Linked DNA regions of Homo sapiens. The protein of the gene in region 2 interacts with the protein of the main gene of each other region in a biochemical or structural test. Each region holds a gene or a part of one and is shown on either strand. Other genes may lie near its edges. The genes, in order: NRF1 and PPRC1.

Evidence for each region.
Region 1: the proteins of PPRC1 (region 2) and NRF1 form a complex in vitro, tested with the Homo sapiens proteins (one study listed by BioGRID).

The regions. Positions count from the first base shown.
Region 1 is NC_000007.14:129,614,699-129,618,511, reverse strand, and holds part of NRF1 (nuclear respiratory factor 1), read right to left. Parts: intron 1-3,813. UniProt on the Homo sapiens protein: Transcription factor that activates the expression of the EIF2S1 (EIF2-alpha) gene. Links the transcriptional modulation of key metabolic genes to cellular growth and development.
Region 2 is NC_000010.11:102,131,497-102,136,030, reverse strand, and holds the start of PPRC1 (peroxisome proliferator-activated receptor gamma coactivator-related protein 1), read right to left. Parts: upstream 2,992-4,534; 5' UTR 2,963-2,991; coding exon 2,810-2,962; coding exon of another isoform or gene 2,651-2,809; intron 2,289-2,650; exon of another isoform or gene 2,189-2,288; intron 1-2,188. UniProt on the Homo sapiens protein: Acts as a coactivator during transcriptional activation of nuclear genes related to mitochondrial biogenesis and cell growth. Involved in the transcription coactivation of CREB and NRF1 target genes.

The DNA.
Region 1 (3,813 bases), on a different chromosome or scaffold from region 2:
CGTTGCCCAGACTGGTTTTGAACTCCTGGCCTTAAGTGATCCTCTGCCTTGGCCTCCTAAAGTGTTAGGATTACAGGTGTGAGGCACCATGCCTGGCTTTCTGCAGTTTCTATATGGCATTATACTGATGAATGCAAATCCCCTAATTTATCCCAATGTCCCCTTGAGCTCCAGCCCAAATACCCAGGTACTTACTTGACCTTTCTTGATTCCCAGATATCTTAACACATCTGGAGTCATACTCTATTACCTTCCTCCTCAAATTCTGTTCTTCCTATACATTCCCTATCTTAAAGGCATCATCATCACCCAATAACCACACTATAATCTTTAACTCTTTACTCAATTGTCACTCAAATCTGACAACTGTGAAGTAAAAATTATCCCCAGAATCGATGTCCTTTTACATCACAATTCAATACTCTCACAAGTCTCTAGTCAAATCTTTACATGTCATCTTTTTAAAAACCATAGTGGATGTCCTACTCAAACCTCTTATGGTCCCTAAATGCCTATAGAATAAAGTTCACACTCATGAGCATGGAATTACAAACTCTTCCCAATATGGCCACAACCTTATCAGTTTCACTTTCCACTATTCTCCAAGTCGAGCAAAATCCACTTGCTAGTTCTCAAATCAGACTACTGATGCCCTTCCTCTCAGCCCCTCTTCTCCATCAGTAATGCAGCTACTCCCCCTTCCAAGTCCTACTCAAACTTCCCCTATGTGAAAAGTCTTCCCTAACCTCACTTTTCTCTGTGTATCATTCTCCTCTCCCTAGAAGGAATTTCTCCCTCCTCCTATAATCCCACACCACTCTTTGTTTGCTCTATTTTGGTTCTCTAGAAGTTGTAACATAGCTAGTTGAGCCCATACCTTTCTGCTCTACACGACAAGGCCCAAGATTTGTTACTCTAGCACCTAGTACATGCCCAGAATGTGGTATATCTTTAATCATCGTCAGGTGAATGAATGAGTGGCAAAACTCCAAAGTGAGAATACACTTAAGGAGGTTATTTCTTAATGGAGAGAATGCTTCACTCTCCTTTGAACATAAAACAAGAATCAGGTCCCCTAGTCCCCAACTCCCCATTTCTAGTCCACTGCGCAAACAGTTTTAAGCAATGTTTCATTGGGACATTTCCTCATTTCCCCTTGTTCTTTGTAGGTTTAGCTGCCAGCCTAACCACATTAGCATTCAGTAGCAGCAACAAAACGGACTCTTAAAGTTCTAAAAAGCAAAAACTTTACAATTACCAACAGTAAAATACATGCTCTTTTTAAAAAAAACTGTCTTAATATATATGCATACAAAGCTCATTCTTCATGAAGATTCAGAAAATGGCTTGGCATAGTTTATCCCAACAGGCACCACTTAAAGAGTTCTTAAGAAAATGTCCACTTAAGCCATCAGCCAAACTTTTCACATTTGTTACCACAGAAATCAGCATGCATGAATTAATCGAAATACAATGCATATTAAACAATGCAATTACTATAGTCTAAATCACCAAACTGATAACCCATACAAAAGTAGCTCTTACAACTTTTTTTGAGAATATTTCCCCTAAAAAATTCCAGTGATCATCCCAACCTACAAAACTAGATTATTTTACTAGTATCATCTTCTCTTTACCCCTCTTCTCCCCACCAACACTCCCTCCAACACACACACACTTCTCCTTAAGAGAAACGGCTTCCTCAAGAAATTATCTGATGGTTCAGTAGCAGTTGGAGTTTTACACAAACTATGTTGTGATTGGGCAAGGCAGACTACCAGATCTGGGATTCAGTAGACCATTCCTTACTGTCAGATTATCTTCTAAGTGACTGCTCTTAGAGAAACAACACAGATTTGCCTCAAGAGATTACAAATGTGGTAGGCCTACCTTAACAGCAACTAGTTTTTTTTAAGAAACACGGTCGCACTGTCGCCCAGGCAGGAACACAATGGCATGATTATGCTCACTGCAACCTCAAACTCCTAAGTTCAAGTGATCCTCCTGCCTCAGCCTCCTGAATAGCTCAAACTATAGGCATATGCCACCATACCCAGCTAGTTTTTCGTTTTTTTGTTTTTTTAAATATTCTGTAAAGACAGGATGTCACTACATTGCCCAGGCTGGTCTAGAATTCCTAGCCTCAAGCAATCTTCCTGCCTTGGCCTCCCAAAGTGCTGGGATTATAGGCATGAACCACCATAACCAGCCATTGTTTTCTAATATACTAGAACATCTCTGTAAAGTTTTATTTCTAGCCCTTCTTTGGGTCATAGAAAGTTTACTTGGTATCACATAAATGTTCACATTTTAAAACATTTTAGGCCTAAAGACCACAACATGATGAAGCCTTTTGGATGTTTTGCTAACTACACTGCATTAAGTTGGGCTGAAAATACATTAGCCCAATTCTGAAGTGCACTTTTGAAAAAATAAAAAATATATATATGTGTGTGTGTATATATATATATTCTAAGGTATAAGCAATCCACTTATTTTTCTTGAGCAGTCAAAAATTCCTTTCCCAAGTTTTGTCCATATTGCACTAAAATAACTTCAAACAAAGCATTGTTGTTGCTTGAGGATTAAAAGTTTCCAATAGCTCAATATGGTTTTAATCTCCTGGAAACACCTGAAATTCATTTGTTTCACCTCCTTTTACTATTTATCTTCCAGTCTGTTTACCTTAGTAGAAAACTGATGGATAAAAGTACTAACTGAAAACCCAAGAAAGTGGGTAATCCACCCTCTAGTTAATAAGGAAGGAAATATGATACACAAGGCACAAAAATTAACATGTATCTTGAGACTCAAAAAACATTGGACTTGGTCTAAATAAAATGTTTCTAAAATAACAAGTGGATTCCTTTTTCATTGCTGTTTTACTAAGCATTCATGGAAAATTATATTTGGGTAAGCTCAGGCTGAAAACACTAGCTTTAGCTATCAAGGAAAACATGAAAGAACATAAAGAAAATGTATTTTAGTATAGAACATTTCCTGAAATGTTTTTTACAAAATCAAAGATTTGCATTTTAAGATTGATTTTCCAAATACTCTATATATACATATTAATAAGCATCACACAGTCACACACAAACATCTAAATTCAGATATCCCATTTCCTAGATGATTACTGGCCCAGAAAGGGCGCATCTAAACTCTTGAGGTTAAAGTAGACATTTGTGAAATTCAACAGCCCAGGGAGTTTCCCCTCACCCTTCAATTTTTCACAGTGGCACTGTGTGAATGAATAAGCCTGCTTCAGCATGAAGCAACAGGCTTGTCTAAAGACATCTGACAGAAGCTGAATGTATACATTAACTTCCTGTTGAGGTAGGACTGTAGACTGTTTCTAAAGACTGACAGTTCATAGTTCCTCCAGAAACCAAAAAATCAGCATGCCTTTTCAAATACTCAGGGAAAAATTTTAATTTCAGTAATTACTGTTCATTGTTATTATTCTTCAACTTTACTGAATGCCTTATTCCATACAAGAAAAGGCATAAAAATTTAATCCCAGACCACAGGAGCTTAAATTTCCCTTAAAACAAGTCACTCATTCGTGATTATTTACATAAAATGCTTCTAAAGACAACCCAGAGATTTGGTTGAACCTACAGTGTGCAGGCAATGCAAATTCAGGTATTTAAATCATGGGAAGTTGGCCTTCGGTTCCCTAACAAAATTAGACAAGTGCATAATTATCGTTTAATAAAACAAAAAACCTACAATTTGGGGTCCTAACGACATACACAGGAATTCAGAAGGAAACCTGAAATCCTTTCTCCTTTAAACCTTCTATATCTGGAC
Region 2 (4,534 bases):
ATGCCCAGCTCTCTATGAACCACTCATCTTCACCTCCATCAGGTGTCCAGTCAGAGACACACCCTCACACCTGACCTCACCCATCACTCAATTCCCAAACAGCACAGCTCCCAGAGTACCAAGATCATCCGAGTGCTAAGCCCAGGCTGAAAGTAAGCCAGCCATCAGCACCTCTAACTTCAAAAACCTCCCAAGTAGCTTTCACCCACCAAACCTGCTCCCTCCAGGGTTCAAAAACAGTCAGAAACTTTTTAAATATGTATCTGATCACTGCCTGAGACCCTCCCTAAATCCCTTCAATGGCATTTTACTGCTCTTAGCATTAGGTTTAAACTCTTTAATATAGCTTACAGGCCGGGTGTGGTGGCTCACGCCTGTAATCCCAGCACTTTGGGAGGCTGAGGTGGGTGGATCACTTGAGGTCAGGAGTTCAAGACCAGCCTGACCAATATGGTGAAACCCTGTCTCTACTAAAAATACAAAAATTAGCCATGTGTGGTGGTGCTTGCCTGTAATCCCTGCTACTCAGGAGTCTGAGGCAGGGGAATTGCATGAACCCAGGAGATGGAGGTTGCAGTGAGCCAAGATCACACCACTGCACTCCAACCTGGGTGACAAAGCAAGACTCCATTTCAAAAACAACAACAAAACAACAAAATATATATATATATAGCTTACAAAAGTCCTGTCTTCCCCACCAGACCTCTGCTCCAGCGTGTCCTCTCCCACTACTCTGTAGTACAGGTCTCGGTTTCTCCAATAAGCCATGCTCTCTTCCTCCTTGAGGGCTTCACTTTTCCCTGATTAAAGGTTTTCCACAGTTTTAACATCTCAGCTTTAAATGTCCCGTCTCAGACTCTGCAAAGTAGATCACTACTGCCAATTACATAATCCCAAATATCCTGCACTTTTGTCTCATTCATTATTATTTATCATCGGTCTATCCTGATTAAAACATAGATCCTGAGGGATAAAGACCATGTTTATGTGGTTTACCAGTTTGTCCCCTGTGCCTAAACATAATGGTATTTCAATAAATAACTGGCTGACTGACCAGCTCACATATACCCATCTTTGGTTTTCGGGGGAAGGGAATGACAATCTCTCCATGAGATCCTCTCCAATCCCAAATTACTACTTAACTATTATAGCTGGATCTTGGATCCTTCCTGACTCTCCCTGTGCTATTTGGGAATTCAGTGATGGGTGAGGTCAGGTGTGAGGGTGTGTCTCTGACTGGACACCTGATGGAGGTGAAGATGAATGGTTCATAGAGAGCTGGGCATTGCCTTGAGATTCTGGCCTAGACCCTGGGGCTCTGGTAGGTAGGCAGCACCAGCCCCAAAAGATGTGACCTCTGAGAAAGTAGGGGAGAAGGGATCAGCGCTCCCAAATTCTTGCCCCAGAAACCATTCTCCCCTGGGCAAGGGCCTGGATTGGTCTGCCGGACCTGATATTACCAGGCAGCCTGCAGCCCAACTCCCACCTAGTAACACACAAAAAATGCTGTCAAGGACTCAGCTTAATTGTTTAAGAGAGGTAACAGTTCAAACTAATTCCTGCCCCTTCTACCCTGGGTGGAAACTTTTAAGAAGCCCTCCACTGTAGAGTAGAACAATAACACTTTTTGAAGGCCAAGAAAAAAATATCTAACAGAATCCTCCTCATCCAGTGTATGTTCAACTGTTGAACATGTTGAACAGTTCTCAAACCGCCTCCAACTTTTCCCATCCCCAGCAAAAAATCCGAAGAGCCTTAAGTACGGACCACCCCAGTTTCTGCGTGTCAGATTACAGGAGCATGCCTTCCCAAAAGAGATGCTGGAGGAAAAAGTGAGGAGAGGATTCCCTTTCCCTTTCTTAACCTTGTCCCAGGTGTATGTTGACACTCCCCATACCCCTTGAATCACTAATAAGGCAAGACTGCAAGGCAACCAAAACGCCAATGCCCGTGACTCACAACCCACCCCAAGCCGGTCAGACGGAAGCGCCACAAACTCACTCCTCCACAACCCTTCAGCCTCAGCCCTCTACCCTCCCCATCACACTCAGCCATCCGCAGGGAACAAACTCCCGCAACATCTGGAGAGTCCTTCACCATCCGCAGTGGAGAGACGTTGCGGACCCAAGCAGCAGGGAAAAAAAAAACCTCCAAGGCTCTGAACAAAGTTGACTCTAGCAGCCCTTACCTTCCTTCCCGGCCCGGGCCTCCAGCCCCGGCAGGAGATGGCGGGACCCGTGGAGACACACCCAGTTCGCGTCAGCCAGGCTCCAAGGCCGATACTAGATGCCCGACAGCCTGGGACGGGAGCCACGTGGACGTTCCTTCCCCGCCCCCACGTGGACCCGCTGCCTGCGCCCCCCTCCACCAGGAGCCCGACCCACGTGGATGCCCGGGCCGCCTAGAGGGGGAGGGGAGGCAGACAAGTTCTCCCGGGAAAATTGCTCCCCCAACCCCACGTGGCTCCGAAAAGGGAACTGCGGCGCCGGGCTCGGGGAGCCTCACTGGGCATCCTTACATGGAGGTCTCAGCCTTCGACCCCAAGTCCGAACCCCTGACCCCCAGCCGCGGGTTATGTTTCCGACACCCCGCTCTCCCCCTCCGGCGTCCCCCAGGAATGGCCGTAGAGACGCTGCCTCTGCCCGCCTACCCCCAGCAAACGGCCTAGGGCCCACTTGCTCCGGCCCGGCTCCCGCGGCCACCCGGCATCGACTCTCAGGCGCTTCCTCTCTTTCCTGTGGCGTCCACGTGTCACCGCCCGGCACACACCGCTTTGCTGCCTGTCGCGGGCCGCCAGCCAACCTCTCACCTGCTCGCCGCCGCTCACAGCGCCCAAAGTCCCATACGGCGCTTGGCTTCGACTTCCCCAACCACTGCCGCGGGCTCCCCCGCCAGGGTCCGGACCGGGGCCCCCACTCGGGGGCGGCGCGACTCCGTCTCTCCGTCCCCGGCGCGCCGCCATCTTGGCCCCTGAACACCCAGCGCTGCTCTGATCGCTGGCGCCGCCTCGCCCAGCCGATTGTGGGAAAGGAACTACAACTCCCGAATGACACTGCAAGACTACGAATCCCAGAGAGCCGTGCGGCGAGACCCACTTGCACCCTGGAAGAAGGCCCTGGCCTCGCGCGAAGGTTCCTGGGAGTAGTAGTCCCTTTAAGTGGGGACCGTTTGGCACTAGCTGCAGGCATCCTGTAGGGCTTAGTTTTGCGTTACACTGGGATACCGATTTAGGGAGCGCTCAGCAGTTAGGGGGAAAGTTAACATTTGCGTATTTTATTGTCGTTAACTTGTCCAACTGTTGGAACGTCCTCTTTGACGTTCTACCTGCTGTACGTTCCTTTCACCTTAGTCCAAGTGGGGCCAAGTGGGCCTGTATATGTTTTGAAACACCACCCCCTAGTGGGCACTTGCGCTCCAAGCGCTAATCCTCACCTAATCCCATATTGCGGCAGTACTGCAAACTTAATCGGAAAATGTCGCGTTCTCCGCCCTCTCTGCTACTACTCAGAAACTTACGTTGCCTTCTCTATCAAATTTGTTTCTTGCTGTTTCAGGTCTCCTTGCTGTTCCCTAAAGACAACAGGTGTTCTCCTGCCTATATGTCGACCTGGAATACTTGAACCTCAAAACATTTCATGCCTTATTTAATCTAGGAAAGGCTTTGGTTGTCCTAGCCAAGAGGGATCCCGCTCTGCGTTTCTACGGTCCATCACTGTCTCTACTCTTCATTCATTTGCCACTTAAAAGCTACTTCATATTTGCTATTTTTAAATAACTTTTTACAAAGCACAAAAATTATTTCAAAAAGTACAAGACTGTTTAGAGGAAAAAAAGTAGTAGGCCTGCAAATTATAGTTCTACTGCCCAGATTTAAACCCCTTGTTACTTTTAGTGTGTATTCATTGACGCTTTTTTCTATGAATGGAAAAATATATAGGGGCACAAATTGGTGATTTGCTTTTTTTATGTAACAATATGTTAATCCACTCACTAGCTAAATATTTACTGAGCCTTTAGCACCAGTTCTATTTTATGAATGTATTGTTATTTAAATTATATTGAAGTTGTTTCTGGCCGTGGCTCGGTGACTCACACTTGTAGTCCCAGCACTTTGGGAGGCTGAAGTGGGTGAATCACTTGAACTAAGGAGTTTGAGACCAGCCTGGACAACATGGCAAAACCCCACCTCTACCAAAAATTTAAAAATTAGCTGGACATGGTGGCACACATCTGTGGTCCCAGCTACTCGGGAGGCCGAGGCAGGAGGATTGCTTGAACCCAGGAGGTGGAGGTTGTAGTGAGCCAAGATCATGCCACAGCACTCCAACTTGGGTGACAGAGTGAGACTTCTTCTCAAAAATAAATAATATTTAAGTTGTTTACAGTTTCTCACTATTACATATTATTATGATGAACACCCTTGCATATGTCATGTACATGTACCTTTGCACTTTTGTGCAATCTTTCTGTGGAATAGTTTCCATGAAATTCAAGTGCCGAGTTAAACAATGCATGTATTTGAAATACAGTAGAA